Regions from separate parts of the Homo sapiens genome. Here all the other regions are linked to region 2. Evidence: fine-mapped expression QTL. A gene starts in region 2. Each other region holds a variant in brackets. All regions are shown on one strand. Distances are between the middles of the regions.

Region 1 (5,966 bases), 24 kb after region 2:
CTCTGCCGGCATCACTTTTTCCTCTGATCATTTTATGGTTTGCCCCTGTTCAACAGGAGGGCCTCAGATCAAGTGTGTGTCTTCAGAAAGATCTTCCCTATTCTACCTAATTGTGTCCCCAGCCCCATTCCAATTGCTCCTTATCTCTCTGAAGTTACGTTTGTGTGTTTTCTTGTCTACTGCCCTATCCCTGGATAAAAATCCCAGTTTCACCAGAGCAGGGATGCAGTCTGCCCTCTCCCACTCCATCTCTGTGCCTGGAACAGCGCCTGAGAGGCAGAAAGTGCTCAGTATGGTGCTTACAGTGTGTGAACATTCTGCAGGACAGCCCCCTCCTTCAGTGAGGAGGAAAGGCGGTCATGGCCCCAGTAACTTCTGCTGTGTGACAAAATAACATGAGCACAGCGGCCTAGAACAGCAAAGATTCGTATTTCTTCCAATTCTCTGGGTCTGGAATGTGAGCAGGACTCAGTTCCACATTGTGTCACTGAGGGTCACTCAGCTGGGGGCTAGGCTGGACAGGGTGGCCCAAGAAGGCCTCACTCACACAGCTGGGACTTTTGGGCTCTCCAAGAAACATCTCTATGCGGTTTGTCTGGGTTTTCTTACAGCATGGAGGTCTCAGGGCAAGTAGGCTGACTTTTTTTTTTTTTTTTTTTTTGACAGTGTCTTGCTCTGTTGCCCAGGCTGGAGTGCAGTGGTGTGATCTTGGCTCACTGCAACCTCCGCCTCCCAATCCTGGGTTCAAGCGATTCTCCTGCCTCAGCCTCCTGAGTAGCTGGGATTGCAGGTGCCTGCCACAATGCCCAGCTAATTTTTGTGTTTTTAGTAGAGATGGGATTTCACCATGTTGGCCAGGCTGATCTCAAACTCCTGACCTCAGGCCTCTGCCTCGGCCTCACAAAGTGCTGGGATTACAGGTGTGAACCACTGTCCCCAGCTGGCTTCTGAGAGAGGAAGCAGAGGCTGCCAGGCCCAGAACTGGCAGCACCATTTTTATCACCTTCTACCGGGCTAACTAAGCCATAGGGCGAGAGCCCAGATAAAAGGGGAGGGGAAACTGTCCACTTCCTGGTGGGTGGGCAGGATGTTCATACCAGCAGGAAGGGGTCTATGGACACGCTACACAGTCACTTCAACAGTGCTGTGGTAGTGCTTCTCAACTTTGATCATGCACATGGGCCATCTGGGGTCTAGTTAAGATGCAGATTTAGTAGGTCTGGAGTGGAGCCTGAGATTCTGCATTCCTAACAAACTCCAAGAGACGTCAAAGCTGCAGGCCCACAGGCTGCACGTGGAGTAGCAAGGCTGTATTAGAATGCATCCTATCAGGACTGAGCCTATGCTTAGGTTTGACATTGCAGGGCCCTCAATTCCACTTCTAGAGTGGACAGCACTTCTTTGGGTTAAGCATTACCCACTGTTGCTGAGGTCTACATGATCGGTCCCTTCTTCCCAGGCATCTGGGCTTGTGCCCACATAGGGTAACTGTCCCATCCTACCTCCCAAGCACTTCTCATGCATTGCTTTATCAGCCTTTAAGGCCTCTTCCTTCTTTAACATTTAATTATCATTGTGTCCCTTGTAAAATTGGTGGAATGGGTCTCTTTCAGTTAGGATTAGAAACTAAACTCAAACTAGTTAAAAGGCAAAGGATTGATTGGAGCACATATGGCTTCAGGACTGGCTGTATCTAGGCCCTCAAATGATGTTGTCAAGAAACTACTTGTCACCATCTCCAGTTCTGCATTGCCAGGATCGCTCTGACAGGATCCCCCACAAGTGGAAGGAGAGACGAACACTCACTTAGCAACCCCAGCAAGAAGGGGGCACCACTTCTTGCCTAATCTTTCTGGCAAAAGTGCCAGGATTCTGTCTGGCTGGCCCAGCTGAGGTCGCGTGTCCACAATGATGCAGTCACTGTGGCCAGGAGGATGTGTTACCTCATTGGCCAGGCCTGGTCATGTGTGTTGTTACCTCACTGGCCAGGCCTGGTCATGTGTGTTGTTACCTCACTGGCCAGGCCTGGTCATGTGTGTTGTTACCTCATTGGCGAGGCCTGGTCATGTGTGTCCCTGGAGCCAAGTGGGAGACTGGCCCCACCCAAGCCACATTGGATGAAAGCAGGAAGAGGTGATTCTCCATGTAAAATTGGAGAGAAGGGAGAGCAGTTAGAAAGCTAAAAAATTGTCCCAATTGATCATGAGAACAGGTGTTGAAGTCCTTGTGTGATGGCTGAGAAAACAGAGGGCGGGAGCCTCATAAATTCCAGAGGGCCCACAGCTAACCAGGCCTCCCAATCCCTAGCACAGACTCAGGGGCTGTCGAATTAAAGATCTTTAGCACCAGAAGAATCTTGAAAATTAGCCAACGCATGTTCCACAGAACACTGGTTCAAGGGAAGCTAACTGATGTTACTTAAAAGGCTGTCTGGTCTAGGAAAGGTAAAAGATAATGGGCTAGGCCAGGTCAGTAGTTCCCTAGCTTTACAGGACTTTTCAAAGCCGTAAATAGGCTGGTGTACATTGTGAATCCCTGAGAATGGGGGGAGGCCTAGGGACTATTGTTTGGAAAATTAGTAACCTAACTCTATTCCTCCCCATTTTATAGATGAAGCAACTAAGGCCAAGAAGGGAAAGTGATTTGGGCAAGGTTATGCAACTAGTTCATGCTGGGATTACCCCAGATGCTATGTTGAGGCATACTTCATGCTGTGCAGAAGCATCTCTTTGTACCTCAGGGCAGCCCTGTCCTCCTGGTTGTGTTCCTGCTGTCTGGAGTCTGTGTGTTTTCCTTTCTCCCACATATCCCTGCATAAGGGTTTGTGGGCTTCTATGGCACTGCTCCTGTGAGGGCCCATGGGCACCCAAAGTGCCCAACCCCTGCCTGGGACATGCCCCTCACTGCTGCATGCCTGAGGGAACTATTGAGAGGTGCAGAAAACCACATGGGTCTGTACTTAGGAAAACGCAGCCACCCAACTGGCAAGGTGACGGCATAGATGAGGTTGAAGGGGCTTGAAG[G/T]TTGGCCAAATCCGGAGAGTCAGCACAGACAGACACCAAGTGTGCCAGGCTGAAGGGTGAAGGTTCCTAGAGCCAAGTACACACTTTAAATCCAGGGAGAGATTGTGGGTCAGGGCTGGGGTGTGCTGACGTGAGGGTGATTGTTATAGCAACATTACCTTTGAGACCCTCATTCACCTGGGCACTTCATATGAGCTCATTCTAAGCCACTCAGTGACCCGGCTTGGGGATTATCATGACCCATATAGATCAAGAAGAAAAAAGTAGCTGTTGGTTAGTTGGCTGAACTCACAGGTATGAGCTTAACACGAAGGATTCAAGCTCTGGCTCTTCTCTTCGCCAAGTATATGATCTTGGGCATGTTACTAAACTGTCTAAGCCCCCATTTCCTCATCTGGCAAATGGGGCTCAGATATGTTCCTACATCATAGCTTTGTCGTGAGGATTAAATAAGATGTCTGTGAATTAGCAAGACACCTAGCCCATCCGTAGTAGGGGATCCTTAAGTGATGGCAGGAATGGAGAGGTAGGAACAGATCCACCAAGTAAAGGGTAAAGCCAAGATCAAACACAAATCCAGCCAGGTGTGGCTCCTTCTGCCTTTTCACTGCCACTAAGAGAGGGGTAGCATTCAATGAGCAGATGGCAGTGGCTCAGAGTGCAGATCAGTGCAAAGGTCTTTCTCGTCTTCTCTGCAAAGAAGGAGGGATGGCATATGTGTATCTTTGGTCATTTCCAGGTGACTCTATCCAAAGTCCATGCAGGCAAGTAGACGCTGTGAGCAGGATGGAATATACAGATCCAAACCTCTAGAGCAGAGCTAGGGCCAGGCATGACTTGATCAACATCTAAATGCCACCAACACCCAAGGGCCACACAGAGGGAAGAGACCGGGGACCACATCTTGGCACTTTCAGATGGGTTTGCAAGCACTGGAAATCAAAGCTTCACCAGGGATGCTTTAAAGATGAAAATCCCAGCCGGGCGCAGTGGCTCACGCCTGTAATCCCAGCACTTTGGGAGGCCAAGGCAGGCAGATCACGAGGTCAGGAGATTGAGACCATCCTGGCTAACACAGTGAAACCCCATCTCTACTAAAAAAAAAAAATACAAAAAATTAACCGGGCATGGTGGCAGGCGCAGTCCCAGCTACTGAGGCTGAGGCAGGAGAATGGCGTGAACCCAGGAGGTGGAGCTTGCAGTGAACCGAGATCGCACCACTGCACTCTGGCCTGGGGGACAGAGCGAGACTCTGTGTCAAAAAAAAGAAAATCCCAGTAAGGATTTAAGGGAAGATGCTGGGAGTAGCATGTGGTCCCCGAGTAGGAAGATGGAAGTACAGCAGAGGCAAGAATGGCAGTCACTGTTTGTAGATATTTTTCACAGGGAAGGTCAGAACATGTCCCAGGGAAACCATGTCCAAGGTTCAAGATGAGAATGACCTGATCCTATATATATATATACTTTTTTTTTGAGATGGAGTTTTGCTCTTATTGCCCAGGCTGGAGTGCAATGGCACGATCTCGGCTCATTGCCACATCCACCTCCTGGGTTTAAGTGATTCTCCTGCCTCAGCTTCCCGAGTAGCTGGGATTACAGGCATGTGCCACCACACCCGGCTAATTTTTTTGTATTTAGTAGAGACGAAGTTTCACCATGTTACTCAGGCTGGTCTCGAACTTCTGACCTCAGATGATCCACCCACCTTGGCCACCCAAAGTGCTGGGATTACAGGCGTGTGCCACTGCACCCAGCCCCAGCCAAGATTGTTTTTTAAGAATCAAAACTTGACTACGGGCTGGACACGGTGTCTCATGCCTGTAATCCTAGCATTTTGGGAGGCCAAGGCAGATGGATCACTTGAGGTCAGGAGTTTGAGACCAGCCTGGCCAACATGGTGAAACCCTGTCTCTACTAAAAATCAAAAAAAAAAAAAAAAAAAAACCAAAAAGAATTAGCCAGGTGTTGCGGTGCATGCCTGTAATCCCAGCTACTCGAGAGGCTGAGACAGAAGAATCACTTGAAACCAGGATGCAGAGGTTGTGGTGAGCTGAGATCATGCCACTGCACTCTAGCCTGGGTGACAAAGTGATATGTCTCGAACAAAAACAAAAACAAACAGAAAAAAACCTGAGATCCCTGATCCACAAAAGCCTGAAATATGATGTCAAATTGTATTTATATGTGCAAGGGGGCATTTTTCTTGAAGGAAGGTCCATAGCAGGAGAGACAAACCGTGGCATGGCTTTGTTTTGTTGGGTCCATACAGCATTATGAATATTTGAATGATTTCCCAACATTTAAAAATTGGATACTAGTACATAAAAATCTAAACGTTGGGCTTCTCTTGAAAAGACTCAGAAGAGCCAGTCACATGGGACCCACATTCCAGAAAGGGGTGGCCTCCTTTAGATGGGGTCTGGGACCTCAGTCAGCTACACAGTCCATAGCACTTTTGTGACCTCCTCAGTGGATGTCCAATGTTGGTCCTCTTTTATCAGCGCCCTTGCACTGTTTTCTTCACTGCTTTATTTTTTTAATTTGCCTTGTCCCTCTGGCTTTTTCATTTGCAACCCGTGATTTGAACTTTTAATAGATGCTCAAAGGGTGGCTGATTTTAAGAAGATCATTGAAACCGAGATCTTTTTTCCAGCTTAAACTCTTTCCCAACAATCCAGTGTTGAAACTGACCCTTAGTAGAGGCGGAACACCACCCTTCCCAGGCCCAGAAACAGATTCTTTTCCTCCTAAGGAATGCGTGTATGTTGTTTGTCCAAGCGCATGTTTACAAATGGCAAGCTTATCTTCTGATGTTATAAAACACCAAAAGCTATTTAGAAATTACTGAAACTCCTATCTATAGTTTCTGCAAGATACTGCTCAGGTGATAATGCAATCAATGAAAGCAATGACAATCTGGGAAATCCTTTCTTTATAACCTTG
Region 2 (5,966 bases):
AATGCCTCCCCACCTTCCTGCCACTGAAGCTCTTAATTTTGATCTTCACGTTCTGTGTCCTCCCTTGGGTAATTATTGCCCCAGGAAGGTGGAGGTATATAGCCAGGAGGGAACATTTGGAAGGCCGGGCCCACATCGCCTAGCAACTGGGCAACAGGAACTGGCCTGACAACCTTCTGACCAGCTGGACCTCCACATTCTCATCCACTGAATGGGTGACAACCATTCCCACCCCCTAGAACAGGGTTATTTTAAGGCCTAAATGTAAACCACAGTTGTGGAATCTGATTCTAAAAAGTGAACCTTAAAAACCAAGTTGGGCTAAGCTTCATTTATCCAATGAGACAGCTGGGAATAGTTTAACAGGTATGGGGGCGCTGTCCGCCTGGTATAACCAATATTTATGATGTTATAGGCCAGGCCTTAACCACTGCAGGCCCAGCATGCACAGACGGACAGCACAGTCCCTGCCTTCATCATTCTGACTTGACCATTATTTTTGTTTCTCCTGAAACAAGATTTTAGCAAAGAAAAACTTGCTGTCTCAACAGAACTGTTGATCCTCTATGTGTCATTCATCTATTAGTTAAAATTCCCAGGGCTAAAAAGACAAGAAGAGTCTGGGGTCCCGACACTTTTAAAAGGTGTCCCTGCTACATAATAAATCAATACTCCAATTCAATCACTGGCATTCAACCATTTAAACTGAGTTTGCTGCTATGTAATTATTGCAGCCTGTTGAGTTAGGGCTCATTTCATTAAAGAGCATAATTGCTCAAATGTGACTTGATTTAAGATTTATTTAAAACTCTTCCATCACCAAAAAATACTCATATACCATGAACCACTGTAACTTCTTAATCTCTCTGTAAATGTTCAGAGGCAGATTCCTAAGTATGAAAGGTGAGAGTTGTTATAGTGCCTAGAGCTCTAAACCCTCTCCTAAACCCCAAGATCCCTTTCTGGTTTCCCCTCCCCCAACCTTAGCCTCCTCCAGGCCTCCACTGGCCCAAGATCCCTGCAAGCCGGCTTTGCGGTGCTCCATGTAAAAGGAAAACTTCACCTACTAGGAGGTCTGCCCCGGCCTTTGCTTCAACAGAGAGGGAAATGGCACCTCCAGGACCTCAGAACCGGAAGCTTCTTTCTGGAAGGGAAAGAGGTTGGCATATGATAGTGGGAGTGACCTTTGGCAAGTTCGTAAACGAGTCAAGACATCACACAGTAAGTGACATGCTGCAGGGTCACAGATTTCTCTAGGTGTCGGATTAACAGGAAGTTAAATCAAACAAGGAGTGTGAGGAGGGAGGCGGGGCAGTGGGAGAATGCCCCCCAGCTGCACAGGGCGGGGTAACATTCGCAGTTGTTCTTCCTGGGAGTGCCAGACAGACGTCCTGGGTCTCTGGGGACACCCAGTTCTGAAGAGGTATCTAATGTGAGATATGAGGCCCTACCAGGCCCATTTCTCCAAATTCCTGAAAATGCCATCCAGATGGCCCCTACCCTGAAGGTTCCAGCACGCAGAGTGAATAGCTGAGCAGTGACGTGGGAGGCTCCTCAGGTCCCTCAGAGTTTCATTTCCTTGGTGCTTCCCAGTCTCTCCTAACCTCTGACCTCTCAGAGTAATTGCCAAATTGCCTTCTGTTTGTACAAGGTCCCAGCACTTCCCGGCGTGGTTCCCGACCCTGTGAGTGGGTGGTGCTGTCTTCAGGCCACAGATAAGAAACTAGGATTCAGAGGGGCTATGGGACCTGCGAGTAGGCGGCCAGTACGTGGTCCGGGGTGTAGAACCCCGGCTGTGCAACTTCTGCAGCCCCGCGCCCGCCGCAGTGCCGGAGCCAGGCCCCACCTTCCTCCCGTGTCCAGCACCCCCCAACAAAAGCATCCCAACTGAACAGCCAACACTTGTGGCTCCTTCCTACAAGTGCTGGGTCTCCACAGCTTTCCTCGCAAATCGAAGCTAACAGGAGCCCCGATTTGCAGACCAGGAAATGGAGACCCCGAACGAAACAACTTGGTCGGGGTCACCCTCGCCAGCCGGGGCACTCTAGAGCTAAAACTCGCGACTTATCATTCGGAGAGGGGTCCCTGAAGCACTGCGGGCGCCCCACTGGAAGCGCAGACCCCGGCCTGCCTCCCCTAATCAGGGCGCAGCGGGAGAGCCGGCCGGGCCGGGGCGGGCACCAGGCCGGGTGCCAGCGCGCTTGGCCGGCCCGGAGGTGTCCGCTTCCGCCCGGGGCTGGCACCGCCGGCCCATTCATCGTGGCCGCGGGCGGGGCGGGCCGGGCCCCGGGCGCCCTCGTCCCCCCGCCGGGAGCCCTCGAGCCAGGCTCCGCGCAGCCCAGCCGGGGAAACGGTGGCCCCGGCCCCGCCGCCAGGGGGAGCAGGGAGCCGCCTCCCGCACTCCGGGAAGTTGCCACCGCGGCCGCCCGGCGTCCGTGCCATGGACAGACCCGGTCCCTGCGCCGCGAGCCCTGCGGCCCCGGCCCGCCCCGTCGGGGGCCGTCCCAGCCCCGCGAAGCGCCAGCGGGCCGCGGCCCGGGACCGGCGCGCTCGGCCCGTGGGCCCCCATTCAATCCCGCCCTCCTCCCCTCGGCCGGCCTCCGCCGCCTTCCGCCCGCACCCCACCCCTCCGGCCCGGACTCCAGCCCGGCAACGTCATCCGGCGGCTTCCCGAAACTTAACCCCTTCCTCCGCCAGCTGTGCGCCGCCCCGCCCCGCCCCGCCGCCAACTTTCTTCGCCCAACTTCGGAGCGCGCTGGCCGGCCCGACGGCCCTGCCGGGAGGGAGGGAGGCAGGGAGCGGTCGCCACGTCGCGCCCGTCTGCCGCCGCAGCTCCCCGGACGGCGAGGGCCGCGGGGTCCACACCACGGGGCGCGCCCTGCCTACGCCCCGGTACGGCGCTTGCCCGGCACCCCCGCCCCGAGTCCGACCCCGACCCCGATGGTGCACGGCCGCGGCGGCAGGCGGCGGGCGGCGGGCGGGCCGGGGGAGGGGCCGCCGAGGAGACGTGTCACTCGCGGCGCAGCGCGGCCGGCCCCGGCCCCCCGACGGCCCGGCCCGCGCGCGGCCGCTGCAGGGCCCGGCCAAGTTTCTTACCTGCAGCCAGAGACGCGAGAGGGAAAGCGAGAGGGCAGGAGCCGCCGCCTTCGCAGCCGCCGCGGAGCCGGGAGAGAGGAGCCGGCCAAGCCTCCGCCAAGAAACCGCCCCCGAGCAGCTGTAGACGCTGCGACCCTGACGCCGCCCGCCCCGTCTGCCGTCCGCTCCGGCCGCTCGCTGGCTGCGTGCGCGCGTGTGGAGTCGTGGCACTTTCTGCCTCAGAGCTGGCGAACGGCCCCCTCCGCCGGGATCGCCGCCTCCTGCCTTCCCCACCCGGGCCAGCCATTCATCGAGCCGCCTCTTCCCATTGGTCCGCACCCCGCCACTCTGCCGGTCGCTGGCCAGTCAGGACGCGGGTGGCCGAGCCGCGGCGGCGGCCATTGGGCAGAGAGGAGGGTCTCCACCTCGGCCAATGGGAGAGGGGAGGAGCTGCGGGGAGGTGAAGGGGGCAGGGCTGGGGAGAGGCGGGGCCGAGCGGCGCGGCGCTCGGCCGTGCGCGGGGCGGGGCGGAGCAGGAACGCCCCGCCCACCGAGGGGGGGGTCTCCGGCCAGCTCCGCCCACTCTGGGCCCGCGGCGCTCCCAGCAGTCTCTGACTAGGATCCGGCTCTGCCTAGGCGGGAAGCAGAAGGTTCGGGTCCCGGCGACCCCGGGCCTGCGCCTCTGGATACCGCTGGGCTGACATGGCGGTGGCTGAACAGGGTTGCGCAACCGCGAACAGCCAAGGAAGCTGCTTTATTTAAACCCAACTAACTTCCCCCGAAGCAGCGCCCCCTCGGGCCGCCGGGTATGAGGACAAGCTCTGCTGGGGGTCAGCCCAGGGAGAGCAAGTTCTTATCATCAAAGAGATTGCAATCAGCACCAGAAGGAATTTCCTTCAGTAAATGGAGGAATTGGGGTGGAAGAGCCAGAAGGTGCACGAGGAATTGAAGCGGATGTCATCGCCCTCGTTGTTAGGGAGGGTACAACTGAGGCACGGTCTATTTAAGATACTCAACCAAATCACAGCCGGCAGAGCAATAATTACAATCCACTCTGTGGCGTTTTATTCCATGCGTTGGGGAAGGTGAGAGGTTCTAACCTAAGAAAACTCATCCGTGTCCCACAAAACGGAGCAACTGGTACTTCCTCATTCCCTGACTTTCTCCCCAATATCAGCCAACACTCAGTCTTCATAATTAGTCAAGTCTTTAAATTAAAATAATTTTAGGCTTGATTTTTAACCATTATGTCAGCGTCTCTTAAAGCCAACCCTTTGAACTTGAGCCAAAGCCAGCTTCTTTGGAATTTTGGATTCTGAGCGACCAAAGGCTGCCTAGACTGCCCCCCATCACTTCCCTAGCTCCTGTTGCTGCAGAATCCCGTGCCTAACATCTATTTCTTGGACAATTTTCAATCTTCCCTGTCCCCATTTGTCACTAGTACTGTACTAGCTGTTGTTAGAAAGATGTGAAAAATACAAGCCTTCATGGGGAATAAAGAGCGATTGGGTTGAAATTAAACTGTTCATTCCTATTTTTAATCTTGGCGGTTCCTTAGCCCATTAATGATTAATCAGCAGGAATTAACCTGGATTAACTCTGGAACACTCAGTCATTTTCCAGCAGTGAGACCCGGCTTCAAATGAAAGTCAAGAATCCCAGCTTCTGGCTGGCAATTGCTACCAATGAGTCCTACTTGACCAGGGCTGGGCCATCTAACCTTTCTGAACATGGGTATACTCCTTTAGGACAATCACTCCTTCCTCTGGGTTTCAGGGAGGAAATTCATTCGTTCATTCATTCATTCATTCATTCACCGGTGTTTGTGGAGTGCCCGGTATACAGTGCTAAGCTGGGCAAGCAGCCTAGAATGACACATAGGTCCAGTGAAGACCCAGCTGCCCTCAAGGGCCTGTCCAGGGACAGGGACCTCCTTTATCCTGTTCACTGTTTATCTTTTTCCGGAAGCAGATCCTGGCAGTAGGGTTTGTTCAATCATTCATTTGGGGGATAATCATAAGAAACATTGGTGGAGAAGTGGGATGAGCAGGAGCCAATAAGGGGACCAACATCAAGCCTGTGACTGGTGTGGGCACACAGGGCTCGGCGTCTCTGGGGATGCTGTGAAACTGTAGAACACACCCCAGAGACGTCCCAGCTGAGGGGTGAGGACCTGGTTATTTATCCAGCCACTCCCAGTCCTCATTGGTTAACAGCTTCTTCTGGGGGGACTTTAACCCCCGCCCCCATCAAGCTGGAGAAAGCCTTGCAGCAAGAAGCCCTTGGCAGAATGGTGAGTGCCTGGAGGCATGTCGGGGGCCACAGCAGTGTCTCCCACACTGTGAACCATAGTCCGACACAGCACCTGCACAGAATAGAGGCTTGTGAATATACGTGTTCTGTAAATATTGTCCCATGAGCGATAACATTACAAAGTCCTTAGGAGTGAGGAGTGTTTACAGAAAAGGGGCTCCCTGTTTGTTCCCTTACATAACTTAACATTTGATTTGGCCTCAACACAACATTTGTTTCGGGATGGAAGAGCAGCCCTGTCTGAGCCTTTGCATTTCCTCTGTCCTTGCCCCTCATCTGCCAACAGCCAGCCCCAATGTGCTGTGAAGACTTCCAGCCTCATCATCCTCATGCCCTTTGGGCAAAGAAATCAGTCCCGCTGCACCAGGCTCTGTCAGGGCAGATCTGCACACCCTCAGGGTGGCCCGACTTTGACAGCCACTGCTGTGCCTGTGGACACCCATCTTTAACCCCCTGCAGCCTCGTCAGCTCTCCCAAGGCGTATCTGGGAAAAACCAGATCCATCCCTAGGACTAGATGGACAAGGGTTGCCTGTGGTGGGAGTGAGAGGCATCCCCCCAGGCTCAAGTCTTCTGCTA
Region 3 (5,966 bases), 160 kb after region 2:
TCCCATGTTAGTGTATGTGATGAAAAGAGACAGCAACTGGCATTTACTGGACCTCTACGATGTACCAGGCCCTGTGTAGGTGTTTTTATAAATAGTGTATCTGTCAGCTATTCCCACAATAAAGCTGTGTAACAAAATTCACAGCATACAACATCTTCGGGTTACATGGAATTTGGCTGGCCTAAGCGGGGCTCAGCTGGGCCTGACTCCTGGCCATCGGATGGGTTCAATTCTGCTTAGTATGTTTCTTATACTTCTGGAACCAGCGCTACCTAAAAAATTATTTTCTACAATGATGGTAAAAAAGTGCAGGAGCCAGCTTAACAGCACAAGCCCACTCAAGCCTTCACTTACATCATGACTGTCAACATCCTTGACCATAGCAAGTCACATGGCTAAGACCAAAGCTAAGGGACATTAAGTATACTCTGCCACCTGAGGCCATAGCAAGAGTGTGGACATCTAATATTAATGCTACTACAGGGAAGTGAAAATAGGAAATTATTATTCTACCTTCTACAGAAGCTGTTTTATTCTATCCTCTTCAACAACCCCAACAGGCAGCCATTATTAACCCCAATTTAGAGATTTTAAAAACCGAGACTCGGAAAATGCCACAGTAATTTAGAATGTCTAAGCCACCAAACTAAGATTTGTGCCTTGTCTGCCTGGCTCCAAAAACTGGGGTCTTCTGCCATTCTGGGCAGCCTGTTAAGTTGAGAATTTGCATTTTAAACCATCCATCTGTGGGCAACAGTGACCTATCATAAACCACGGTCAAAATCAGAGAGAAGGATTTGAGTACAAGTAGGTGATTTGGGAGGTGATCTCAAGAAGCACCATAGAGAAATGTGGAAGAGAAACAGGGAAGAGAAGCCAAGAAAGGGGGCTTACTGGAGCCAGTTACTGCTGTGGGAGGATGGGCTACTGAGGACAGGGGTGACCAATAGAAGAGGGTCACATACTTCAGAGTTGTTGCAACCAACAGGCGGGGAGCTGGGGTCCTTGTCCATCAACTTCCAGGAGCCATTGAGAAGCACCACTCTGGTTCACTGGGTCTCAATCTAAAATCATCTGGGAGTTTGTTGTTGTTGTTGTTGAGACAGTGTCTCACTCTGTCACCCAGGCTGGAGTGCAGTGGTGTGATCTTGGCTCACTGCAACCTACCTCTGCCTCCCAGGTTCAAGCAATTCTCCTACCTCTGCCTCCAGAGTAGCTGGGATTACAGGCGTGTGCCACCACACTCGGTTAAATTTTGTACTTTTAGTAGAGATGGGGGTTCCCCATGTTGGCGAGGCTGATCTCGAACTCCTGACCTCAAGTGATCCACCCGCCTCGGCCTCCCAAAGTTCTGGGATTATGAGTCACCGCGCCTGGCCAAGTTTATTTTTTTTTTCCGTGATGGCTGGGTCTCAGCTCCAGTGATTTTGAGCTGATGAGGCTGTGTCAGCCTGAGCATGGGACTGGTGAAAGCTCCCCCAGTGACCTGTTGGACATGGTAGTTTGGGAAGCTCTGGTCTAGCTAGTTCCTCGGATCCCTCTGAGCCTACAAGTTCGAGGCCTCTTTGAACAAGCTCAGCTGAGGATGGAAACCCTGAGAAAGTGGCCCGTGCAGCTGGAGATAAATCATTTATTGGCCGGGGCTGCAGCTGGTGGCGGCTTGAGAAATGAGCTTTTTGGCCTTAACTCCACTGTTTGTGCTCCCGTGACCATAAGGGAACTGAACGCACAGACTTTCTTTTTAGAAAGAAAAAAAAAATGTCAAGCATATTTTCCAAGGTTTAATTTCCCTCCAATGTCCTGAAGAAACCTTTCGAAAAGCTTAGACTGCCTCAACCCCAGTATCTAGTAATAACATCAAACACTTTGAAATGGAGACCCAGTGTGACTTTGTTTAACTAAATAAAACCCAGGGAAGGAGAGAAATTAAAAAGAGCACGGGTTTAAGAGAAGTCAAATTTCCACCAAAAAGGTGGAAGAGGGAAGCTGGTTGGTGGAGTAGGATGGGAGGCAGATGCCGAATCCCAAGAGTTTAAAATTCAGGAAAAGAAGAGAAATGCACTGTCTTTGCCAGATTTAGCAAATAAAAATATGGGATGCCTAGTTCAATTTGAATTTCAGATAAACAATGAATTTTTTTTAGTGTGTGTCCTGTGCAATATTTGGGACATACTTATACTAAAAATATTATTCATTGCCCATCTGAAATTCAAATTGAACTGGGCATCCTGGATTTTATCTGGCAACCATAAAACATACAAAAATTGGTCTCAACTGGTCAGGACACCCTTAACCAGGTGTCTCTGAGTTAAATTGGGTGACTCTGTGCTAAACGAGATGTCTCTGGTCTTAACTGGGCATCCCTGGTCTTCTCCCATTTGTAACTGGAGTGGAAATACCCATAAAGGAAGATAAGGAAATAAATGGATGGAAAGGAGAGGAGACAGAGAAAAAGGGGGTCTTCATGGGAAGGGCAGGGGCACCAGCATCCCTCTGCCTGCTTTCTCCCACCCCTGAGCTCTCAGCACAGCCGAGGGACCTGAGGTCAGAGTCCCTGTCCAGAGTGAGAATTCGCCTTTCCCTCTGTGAGCTGAGGATTTGGAGGAAGGTCTGCAGAAATCGGGAGGGCCATCTGCCCCAGCCCTGGAGAAATGAGATGGGGTGCTGGAGGTTTAACCCCCAGGCACGGACTCGGGGCCACCCCTTCCCTATGGCCTGCCCTCCTTTGCCCAATCCTTTCTTCCCTGTGCTGCCTCCATCCGCCCTCTTCTCTTCTCCTACCTCCTCATCTCTTACCCTCCAAATAAGGAAGCCAGAGGCAGTGGTGTGGTCAGGGAGGATGCCTGCAGGTCTGATCCCTGCCCCCAGACAGAATCCAGTTGCCAATGAGGCAGCTGGGGAGGGTTTGGAGGAAGGGCTGTGGGTGCTGGGTGGTGCTGGGGATCCTGGCTCGCTGACCGCACAGGGCCCCACCGCTGGCTCCAGAGGACTCAGTGTAGCTGTCTCAGGCCTGCCAGGGCGCCTGCATTGGAGCCACATCAAGGTGAGAAGAGGGCCTGGCCTGCAAGGCAGCAAAGAACAGCTTTATTCCTTCACTGCCAGCGGCTCTGGGAGGTGGAAGATGACGTGGCCCAGTCATTCCACTCCCAGGAACTGACCCAAAGAAAATAATCCAGCCCAAGAAAGAGAGCTGTGCTCAGAAATATTCACAGCAACATAAGGGAAGTGGTTTCATAAACCTTGGCATGTCAGCACCGTGGAATGTTCCTTTATTTCACCCGACATTTAAGTGACCACTTGGTGACAGGCATCCTGCCAGCTACTGGGTAC[C/A]CAAAGGAGGGTATAAGCCGATCCCTTTTCTCTGGGGTTCACAAGCAAAATGAGGGAGGTTGAGAATGCAGCCTCCAGAGTCAGGTAGCGATGGGTCTGTACACCTGTCTGTCCCCTCATCTGTAAAGTGGTGACACCCCATAGGAAGTGGTGAGGGCCAGTGGGGTGACACGCATCACACACACAGCACAGTGCCTGACATGCAGTGAGTGCTCAGCAGTTACCAACTACCCTCATGGCTCCTCCTACTCCTGCAGGGATGTGACAGGCATGGTGACGGGAGGATGTGTGAGCCGTTAAGAGTTCACAGAAGAGGGTGTGTAGGCACCACCACTGAAGTATGCGCAAGTGCTGAGAGCAGAAGGAATGATGGGGTTTAATTCTACTGGAGATGTCACCAAAGGTCACCATAGGCCTTAACTCAGCTGGGTCTTGAAGGATGTATAGAAGTTTGCTGGATGGACAAGAAATGAAAAGACATGCCAGGTAGAAGCAAACCTGTGGGCCCAGTGTGGGCAAATTCAACTCCACCAGACTCAGCTCTCCATCATGGTCCCCAGCCTTTTGGTGATGATCTCAATCTACTCAAGATGTTTTCAGGCCAACATTGAAAGGAAAGGTTCTGGGTCTCTTCCCTTTTCTTCCCATGATTCTCAGCCCCTGTGCAAATGTTCCCATCTTTCCCAGCAGTCTTTGCACTCTTCATATCAAGAGATATTAGAAAGACCAGAAGTGAGCCATTTCAATGTCCACTCGCACACAACCGGGTGAAAAGATCCCACGTTCTTGAAGGAAGGGTCTGTGGTGATAATATTGATTAATAACAGTCAACAAACACGACACCATACTTTTTTTTCTTTTCCTTTTTTTCTTTTTTGAGAACAGGGTCTCACTTCTTGCCCAGGCTGGAGTGCAATTGCGCAATCACAGCTCACCGCAGCCTCCAACTTCTAGGCTACAGCCATCTTCCCACCTCAGCCTCGGAAGTGGCTGGGATTACTGGGCTCTGCAGTAGGGCAGCCCTGGGTTTGAACCTAGATTCACTATTACTAGCTGGGTGACCTTGAGCAGGTCAAGCATGCACCACCACACCTGGCTAATTTTTTCTTTTCTTTCTTTTCTTTCTTTTCTTTCTTTCTTTCTTTTTCTTTCTTTCTTTCTCTTTCTTTCTTTCTTTCCTTTCTTTCTTTCTTTTCTTTCTTTTCTTTCCTTCCTTCCTTCCTTTCTTCCTTCTCTCTCTCTCTCTTTCTCTCTTTCTTTCTTTCTTTCTTTAGAGATGGGATCTTGCTATGTTGCCCAGGCTGGTCTCTAACTCCTGGGCTCAAGCAATCTTCCTGCTTCATTCTCCCAAAGTGTTAGGATTACAGGCATGAGCCCTCACACCTGACTGTTTACTCTCTATTGAGTACTTTACAAATACCATCTCTGTGAATTAGGTATTCTTATCCCCTGAGCTTAGATAATGCAGCTGAGTTGACGCGGCCTGCTGAAGGTCACCCAGCTACTAATAGTGAATCTAGGTTCAAACCCAGGGCTGCCAGAGCCCATTCCCTTACACTGGGTCATGTTACTAAAAATGCCAAAAGAGGCTGGGTGCAGTGGCTCACGCATGTAATCCCAGCACTTTGGGAGGCCAAGCCGGGTGGATCACAAGGTCAGGAGATCACGACAATCCTGGCCCACATGGTGAAACCCAGTCTGTACTAAAAATACAAAAAATTAGCCGGGCATGGTGGTGGGTGCCCATAGTCCCAACTACTCGGGAGGCTGAGGCAGGAGAATGGTGTGAACCTGGGAGGCGGAGCTTGCAGTGAGCCAAGATCATGCCATTGCACTCCAGCCTGGGTGACAGAGTGAGACTCCGTCTCAAACAAAAAACAAAAAACAAACAAACAAATACAAAAATTAGCTGGGTGTGGTGGCGCAGGCCTGTAGTCCCAGCTACTCAGGAGGCTGAGGCAGAAGAATTGCTTGAATCCAGGAGATGGAGATTGTAGTGAGCCAAAATCGCACCACTGCACTCCAGCCTGATGACAAAGCAAGACTCCATCTCAAAAAAAAAAAAAAAAAAAAAAATGCCGAAGAGCTAAGTCAGGGCTTTGATCAAGAAAGGCGAGAAGGCAGGGTTGAGCTCTTCGCTTGAGAGAAGGGGTTAGCTGGTGATGTTGTCATAAGCCCACGAGGGGCCACAGCTCTAGACCTGAGTGCTACACATTGACCCTCCTCTTGGCACCAGACACTGCCCTGCTTGTCATTTCTGTACGGATCAGGGTCCCAGCACAAAACCAAAACCATGCTAGATCTTCCAACCCAGGGAGTTTAATAGAGGGAACTTGTTTTGCAGCTTTGAATTGATGAACAGCCATATGAGGATGTCGAGGTCACCCAGAGGTTAGTAACAACAGGAAGCCACTGCTACCATCACTAGGGCTGGGACAGGAAAGGACAAAGGGACAAGGTGGGGTCATCAGAGTTGATGGTTCTGGGGCCTCTGGCAGGAGCTGGAGCCGCAGCAGAGAGGCAGCCACTGCCTGACACACCCCCAGAAGCAGAGCAGGGAGACACACCCTGAGCTCTCCCCGCCTCTGCCCTCCAGGCTTCTACTCACTTGTCCAAGCCTATCTGAAGCCAGAGGG
Region 4 (5,966 bases), 43 kb before region 2:
TTCTGAGCAGTGGTTAGTGAAGACACAGCCCACAAAAGAAAACCCCCAAAAGCCTCCACCTTTTCCACGTGGAAGTTAAGAGGATCCCATAAAACAAGAGGCCTGAAAATTGCGAAGCTTAAGCGGCCAAGCATGACTCCCACACCCAGCGACACCTCTCTCCCTCCTCACTGCTCATGGCCTGCCCAAGGCTGAACACTCAGCCCAGGGTCTCTGACACACCCCATGAACATCTGCCTCCAAGGTCACATGGTTGACTGTTCTAAGACAAAGCACATGCACCGCCTCTAACCCCCCTGAGGAAGCCTCGATTCCTGCCCTCTGACCTCCAGCACGTCCTGAGACATGCAGCAGGGAGGAGGTCGCAGCCCACTATGAGCAGGGTGCAGGCTTCAGACTTTGACTACAGGGCCAGTCTGGGCAGCCGCCCAGTGCTGGCCGCTGGAGCTGTGTGATTTTCAGGCCTTGGTATTATGGGATCCTCCCCACCATGTGGAAAGAAGATAGAGCCTGCGTTTCTCTAGGTTCACATGAAGGGTGAGAACTTCACAGACACCCAGGAGGCAGGGAAACAGGGCTGGCCATCTGAGACTAGGCTCTTTTGAAAAGTGTTCTTTAAAATGTATTTCATACCTCCCTGGCTTTTAACATTATACACACACTTGGGCTGCCAGACCCTGTCCAGCCAAATGCAACAGCCCCTGGACTCCTAAACCTGACCAGACCTTACAGACCCCTGTGGGCATCCTCAACCCCCTCCTCATGCCTCACCCTTTGGGCCTCTCTGGCTCCCTCCGTCCTGGACCTGGACTGGGTCCTGTCCCTTCCCATGCCCCCGCCAGCCACTACACCCACCTTGCCCTGCAGCTGCTGCACCTCCTTCACGTGCTCCCGGTAGCTGGCCTGCATGCGTGCCTGCACAGCCGTGATCTCCTGCTCCCGGGCCACCAGCTGCTTTTTCACTTTGGCCTCCCCGGCTGCTGCTTTGGCCTTTTCTGCTGCCATCTCCTGGGGGGAAAGTAGCAGAGAGAGGGGCTGGTAAGCCTTGCAGGGCAGGAGCCTATCAGAAGGGAGCAAGAGCATCACCCGAGCTGGGAGGCTGGAGAGCAGAGCACAGACCCCTCCTGCTGGCCGGGTTCTCAGCTAGACTCAAGCCAGCTGCAGTGGGAACGACGACAGACAACAAGGGATCCCTGGAAACCCTGCTGGCCCTGGCCGGTTGTGGGCTCAATGTCAGGCCTTGGCCACAGTGGAGGTGGCAGATGCGGCAGGAACAGCAGAGACACACGGTGCTGTCCCTGGCTCTCCAGGGCACTGGCTCGGCCCTGCTGTGATGACAACACCCCAGCTTGACTCAGTCACCAACATCCAGGGCCCCTGGGACACCTACTTCTACTCAAGTGCCTTCATCAGGACTGAAAGGCACCAAGCCCTGATGGCTAGGGTGGGGGTGGGGCCAGCTGCCAGTTCCGCCGTGGCTGGGGGTAGGGCATGCATCTCTGCAGGCGGTCGCTCTGTCCTCCACCCAGGGGGACATCGGCTCCGATCAGTGCCAGATACCCACAGGTGAACATGGATGCCGAGTCTGGGGGGTCCGGCGTCTCCAGCAGGGACAGAGCAGGATGGGAAGGCTGGCCATGGTCTGTGTCATCCCAGAGGGATGGCCTCAACCAGAAACCATAGGGAGGCAGGGTGACAACTCAAGGAAAGGTTGACACAATGAGCCCCTGGGGTGGGGGTGTTCCCTGTCTAGCAGGCCTGGACAGACCAGCACTGATGTGATGTGAATACATATCATAAACACAGCAGGCCTGAGTGACCAGGGCACAAGCGTCCCACCAGCGTCAAGGCTGCTCCATGGGCAGTGGGCCAGGAGTGAGGAAGTCCGTCCCCTCCCCAGACCAGGACTATAGGGAGGCCTGTCCCAAAGGCCAGAGTGTCCCTCTTGCCTGAGATGGGAAAGAACCCTGAGGAGGAGCCACTGGGTGCTGGTGCTGTTCCGTGCTCCTGGTACTCTCTGGGACCTCCTGGGACCCTTGGCCTCACTTTTCAAAGACAATCATCTTTTTGGCTCTGCCCGGGGTGAGAGGCCCACAGGAACCTGCAGGTCTGCTTCACTGATTAGCTACAGAAGTGGGGGGCGGGATGAGCTGACACTGCGCCCCAGCACTGTCCCATTTAATTTTCTCTGGAAGACGAGGATTACAATCCCCATCCAAGCTGAGGTCACAGAGCCTTGGAGAGGACACACTTGTCCAAGGCTGGGGAGCAGCTCTAAGAGGCAGGGGTGGGGCCCAAACCTAGGACTGTACAAGACCAAGGGGTTCCCAGAAAGGGGAGGAATGAGGACGCCTGCCCTTCTGTGTGGGCTGGGAAGCCCCTGGGGAAAGGGAGGACAGCTTAGCGGTGATTCCAGGACCCCTCCGCACTTCCTCCTCTAACACACGTGGCCCCACCGGCCCACTGCTGGCAGACAGGTGTGGTAGAGATGGCTGGAAGCCTCCCAACACCAGCAGAGAGGAGGCCGCTCTCTTTGCTGAGTTTCCGACACAACGGCCCTTCCAAGTAGATGGTCCAGCCTTGCGAAGAAACCAAAGCTCATGGAGACCAGGCATTCCCACAGCCACATGGATGGCTGGTTGGGAAGCCACACTTGGGTCATCCTCAGCCCTCCTCTGCCACCTGGAGACACCCTTCCCAGCCCTGGGCAGGCCTCGTGCAGTTCCAAGGTCCACCCCGCTCAGGGTCTGCAGACCCCTATCTCCTGGGGGTCAGCGTCCCAAGGCCGCCAGGATTCAATGGGATCTTCCCCCTCTTTTGCCTCTAGGCTTTTTAAAGAGCAGAGAAAAGTCACTTGTCCTCAGTGCAGCTGTTTAGCTCTCTATGGTTTCTTTTTCTTCAAAGAGCTCAGAGACCCAGGGTTCCTTCTGCTTGTCAAATTCTTAATTCAGTTGCAAGAGTCAGATTTATTTCCTTGAAAAGCATTCCTGATGGTGGTGGGGGGGTTCCGGCGCACAAGAAGACAAGGCTTGGCACCATCACTAGCATTGGCTCAGAAGTGACTCTCTGTCCCTACTTCTTCCAGGC[G/A]CTGTTCCCTAGGAGTAGTGGGGCCCCTCATGGTGTAAGCTTTGAGGACTGTAGAGAGCCCTCCAACCTGCTTTCCCAGCCAAGCAAGGAAGCAACCTCCACCAAGAAGGCCTGGTAACAGGAACTCCTCCCGTGACCCCATCCCCAGGTAAACCCTCTGAGGGTCCCAGAGGGCCTTGGGGCTCCTTCTGTTTCACAGCCCCATCTCCTTCTGGGCCCTAAAGCCAGAACACGGGACCAAGCCCAGGACGGGGCCAGTCCGAGGCATGGCTTCAGGACAGAGGTTCTGGTGCCCAGGAACATGACAGCTGGAATGTTTTTCCAGAAGGTTGTGCCTTCTTGGTTACATCACTGGAGCTCTGCCTGGACTCCTCAAACCCCCAAGAGATTCTCAGACAGCCAGGACAGAGTTCTCAAGGGCGTCTGAGCCCATCAACTCCTGCAGACAGTGTGTGGACTGGTCCTTGAACCCAACTCTGCTGGGACTTCGCACATTTGGGAGACCTGGATACAGCAGATGATCCAAATTTTCTTTCTCAGTGTGTCCAGATCATGCCTTCAGCATCAGACCCCAAGAAACAGAATTAATGAAAACCCTTTTCAACTATAAAAACTTCTCTACAAGGACAAAGAAAACATGTCGAAGGGACTAGAACAAGAAACATAGGTTCCATCCATCTCCCCAGCTCCCGAGGGGGATTAAGGTAAGAGGAACTGCCACACTCTCTGGAATTTACTGTCTCACAACATTTCCCTCAGCAGTGCTGGGCAGTTGCAGTGTTACCGTAAGAATGAGGTAAACAGGCCAGGGACGGTGGCTCGCAGCTGCAATCCCAGCACTTTGGGAGGCCGAGGTGGGCGGATCACCTGAGGTCGGGAGTTCGAGACCAGCCCGACCAACATGGAGAAACCCCGTCTCTACTAAAAATACACAATTAGCCGGGTATGGTGGCGCTTGCCTGTAATTCCAGCTACTTGGGAGGCTGAGACAGGAGAATCGCTTGAACCCGGGAGGCGGAGGTTGCAGTGAGCCAAGATCGTGCCATTGCACTCCAGCCTGGGCAATAACAGTGAAACTCCAGTCTCAAAAAAAAAAAAAAAAAAAAGAATAAGGTAAACACATCGGCTCTGCTCAGGACTCTCAACAGAGAGCACGAGCACAGGGAAGAGAAACGGCCAAAGGCATCGACTACAAACATTTAACTATTTACAAGAAGACAATGTAAAATACTCAGAAATGCTTCCAGGCTTCCCCTCAGCTGCGAGGTGGCCTGGCCCTCTCAGTGGCCACTTGATCACTGGCGGCCTGCTAGGCTGAGCCTGGTGAGACCACCAGAGTGGGTCTGCGCCACCAGGCTTGAGGTCTGACAGGAGCCAGATGCAGCCAGGTGATGCCTAACTGTACCAATGACCTCTGTGCAGAACAGGAACATGGGAGCTCCAGAAGGCTCCTGAGGGAGGGAAACCAAATTGAGTCTTCCAGAGTAAGAAGACAATGTCCAGACATCCAAGCACGGAAGGGCATTAGAGGCCAAGGGAAGAGCAAGAGGAGAGCCCCAGAGGAGTCACGAAAGGGCACAGAATGTCTGAGCACAGGTAGGGAAAGGGAAGAGGTGAGGCCAGAGGCAGGGTGAGTGGCTGAGCTGGGGCCTGGGGGGCAGACTTAGGTCTGAAGATTAGGGGCCCCTGGCAGAGCTTGATGGGGGTCCTCACAGATCAGCATTTGGGAGCCCAACAGGACCTCTTCCGGCTTAGGGAGCAGAGTGTGGGTGGAAGGGAGGCCACGCACCGTTAACCTTCTCCTCACCTAAGAGGCAAGGCCAGTGGTCTCCGAGGAGGCTGGGTACTGAATGAGGACCACAGGCTGCCCTGAGCATGCAGCCAGGGAGATATTCTACCACCCCAGCAGGGTGGAGAGCAGCATCGAAGAGCGGCCATCTAAGGTGTGTCTTCTGGTCCTGCCCATCCCCCACCCAGTGAACTTCCCATCTGGCTCAGAGCCGTGACCCTGAATTTGCGACAAAAAGTAAGGCTGCCTTACTTCCAATTCTTTGTGCTCGAGCAGACAAAGGCACCCGGAAGAAGGGCTGTAGCCCAGACACTGTTGGACAGTCCACCATCCAGGCCCTCCCCCTGCGCCCGCTGCCCGGGATGGAGAAGGCAGGGAGGCAGGGAGAGGGCAAGAGCAAGCCTGCGGTGCTGCATGGGGCAAAGACGGCTTTCAACAGGGCCTGACCAGTCCCAGAGGGCCAGGGGGCCCCTCACCCTGCCCTTCCTCCAGGAAGGCTGGGGCACCAGGGCCCACCCTCAGCAGCAGAGAGGTGGGGAAAGACCCCGGTGAATTCTGCAGTGGGAAGAACAGCCCCTATGCCATGGATCCCAACACAATCTCAACGTGCCATCAGCCCCGTCCTATGGCAGCACCAACCCACCACCGTTTGCTGTTCAGAGTGCAAATGCTACGTGCCACGCCATCCGCTGATACGGGGAGCCAGGGTTTCCCTGCACATCCCTCCTCTGACATCAGAAAAAGGGAGAAGAGCAGCCCCTCCAGTCCCCTCCCCACAAGGTTTTGCATAATCCTCAAGAAAACAACCTTGAATCTACTGTGGCCACCCTCCTTTCCAGGCACAGCCCCTAGAAAGCTGGCCTGTGACTGCAGGACCTGTCTAGTGAAAGCCAGGTCTGGTCCATCCCCATCACAAACTGATGCTGCTTAACTTCCAAACCCTTGCTTCACTTCCCTGCGTTCTTACAGCCACGAAGGAAGCCACCACGCCGTAGAGCCACGAGCACTGCCAAGGGTGAGCTGCCGGCCCTTGGCTCTTTAGGCAGCAGATAAGCAGCAGTCCCTACTCAGCAGCCTGACAGCCAGCTAC

Alleles and levels. Alleles are on the strand shown, and positions count from the first base shown. SD is a standard deviation of normalised expression in the study named. Not every link is listed here.
In carriers of allele G in region 4, the expression in neutrophils of the gene that starts at base 3,311 in region 2 tends to be lower than with A alone (moderate effect, 0.46 SD a copy in CEDAR).

Evidence for each region. PIP is the estimated chance that this variant, and not a neighbour inherited with it, causes the effect. A credible set is the group of variants that fine-mapping cannot tell apart.
Region 1: its variant is the best candidate, but not a certain one, in a credible set for the expression of RRBP1 in thyroid (GTEx, PIP 0.85).
Region 3: its variant is the best candidate, but not a certain one, in a credible set for the expression of RRBP1 in lung (TOPMed, PIP 0.72).
Region 4: its variant is the best candidate, but not a certain one, in a credible set for the expression of RRBP1 in neutrophils (CEDAR, PIP 0.81).

What each region holds. Positions count from the first base shown.
Region 1 is chr20:17,703,101-17,709,066 of GRCh38, forward strand. All of the region lies in intron 1 of BANF2 (BANF family member 2), which reads left to right. Among named protein-coding and RNA genes, the nearest start is that of BANF2, 6.1 kb to the left of the region's middle. The variant G/T (reference allele first, on the strand shown) is at 3,024.
Region 2 is chr20:17,678,932-17,684,897 of GRCh38, forward strand. RRBP1 (ribosome binding protein 1) reads right to left here and starts at 3,311. Exons shown (of 25, transcript NM_001365613.2): 1 at 3,097-3,311; 2 at 1,068-1,144. RefSeq lists enhancers at 605-1,804, 1,996-2,668, 3,922-3,981 and silencers at 2,242-2,551, 2,582-2,631, 2,662-2,991, 3,222-3,641.
Region 3 is chr20:17,840,492-17,846,457 of GRCh38, forward strand. The region is part of intron 1 of LOC107985440 (a long non-coding RNA gene); the gene reads right to left. Among named protein-coding and RNA genes, the nearest start is that of SNORD17, 120 kb to the right of the region's middle. The variant C/A (reference allele first, on the strand shown) is at 3,331.
Region 4 is chr20:17,635,722-17,641,687 of GRCh38, forward strand. RRBP1 (ribosome binding protein 1) reads right to left here. Exons shown (of 25, transcript NM_001365613.2): 6 at 856-1,008. Among named protein-coding and RNA genes, the nearest start is that of RRBP1, 44 kb to the right of the region's middle. RefSeq lists enhancers at 147-1,020, 1,021-1,894. The variant G/A (reference allele first, on the strand shown) is at 3,088.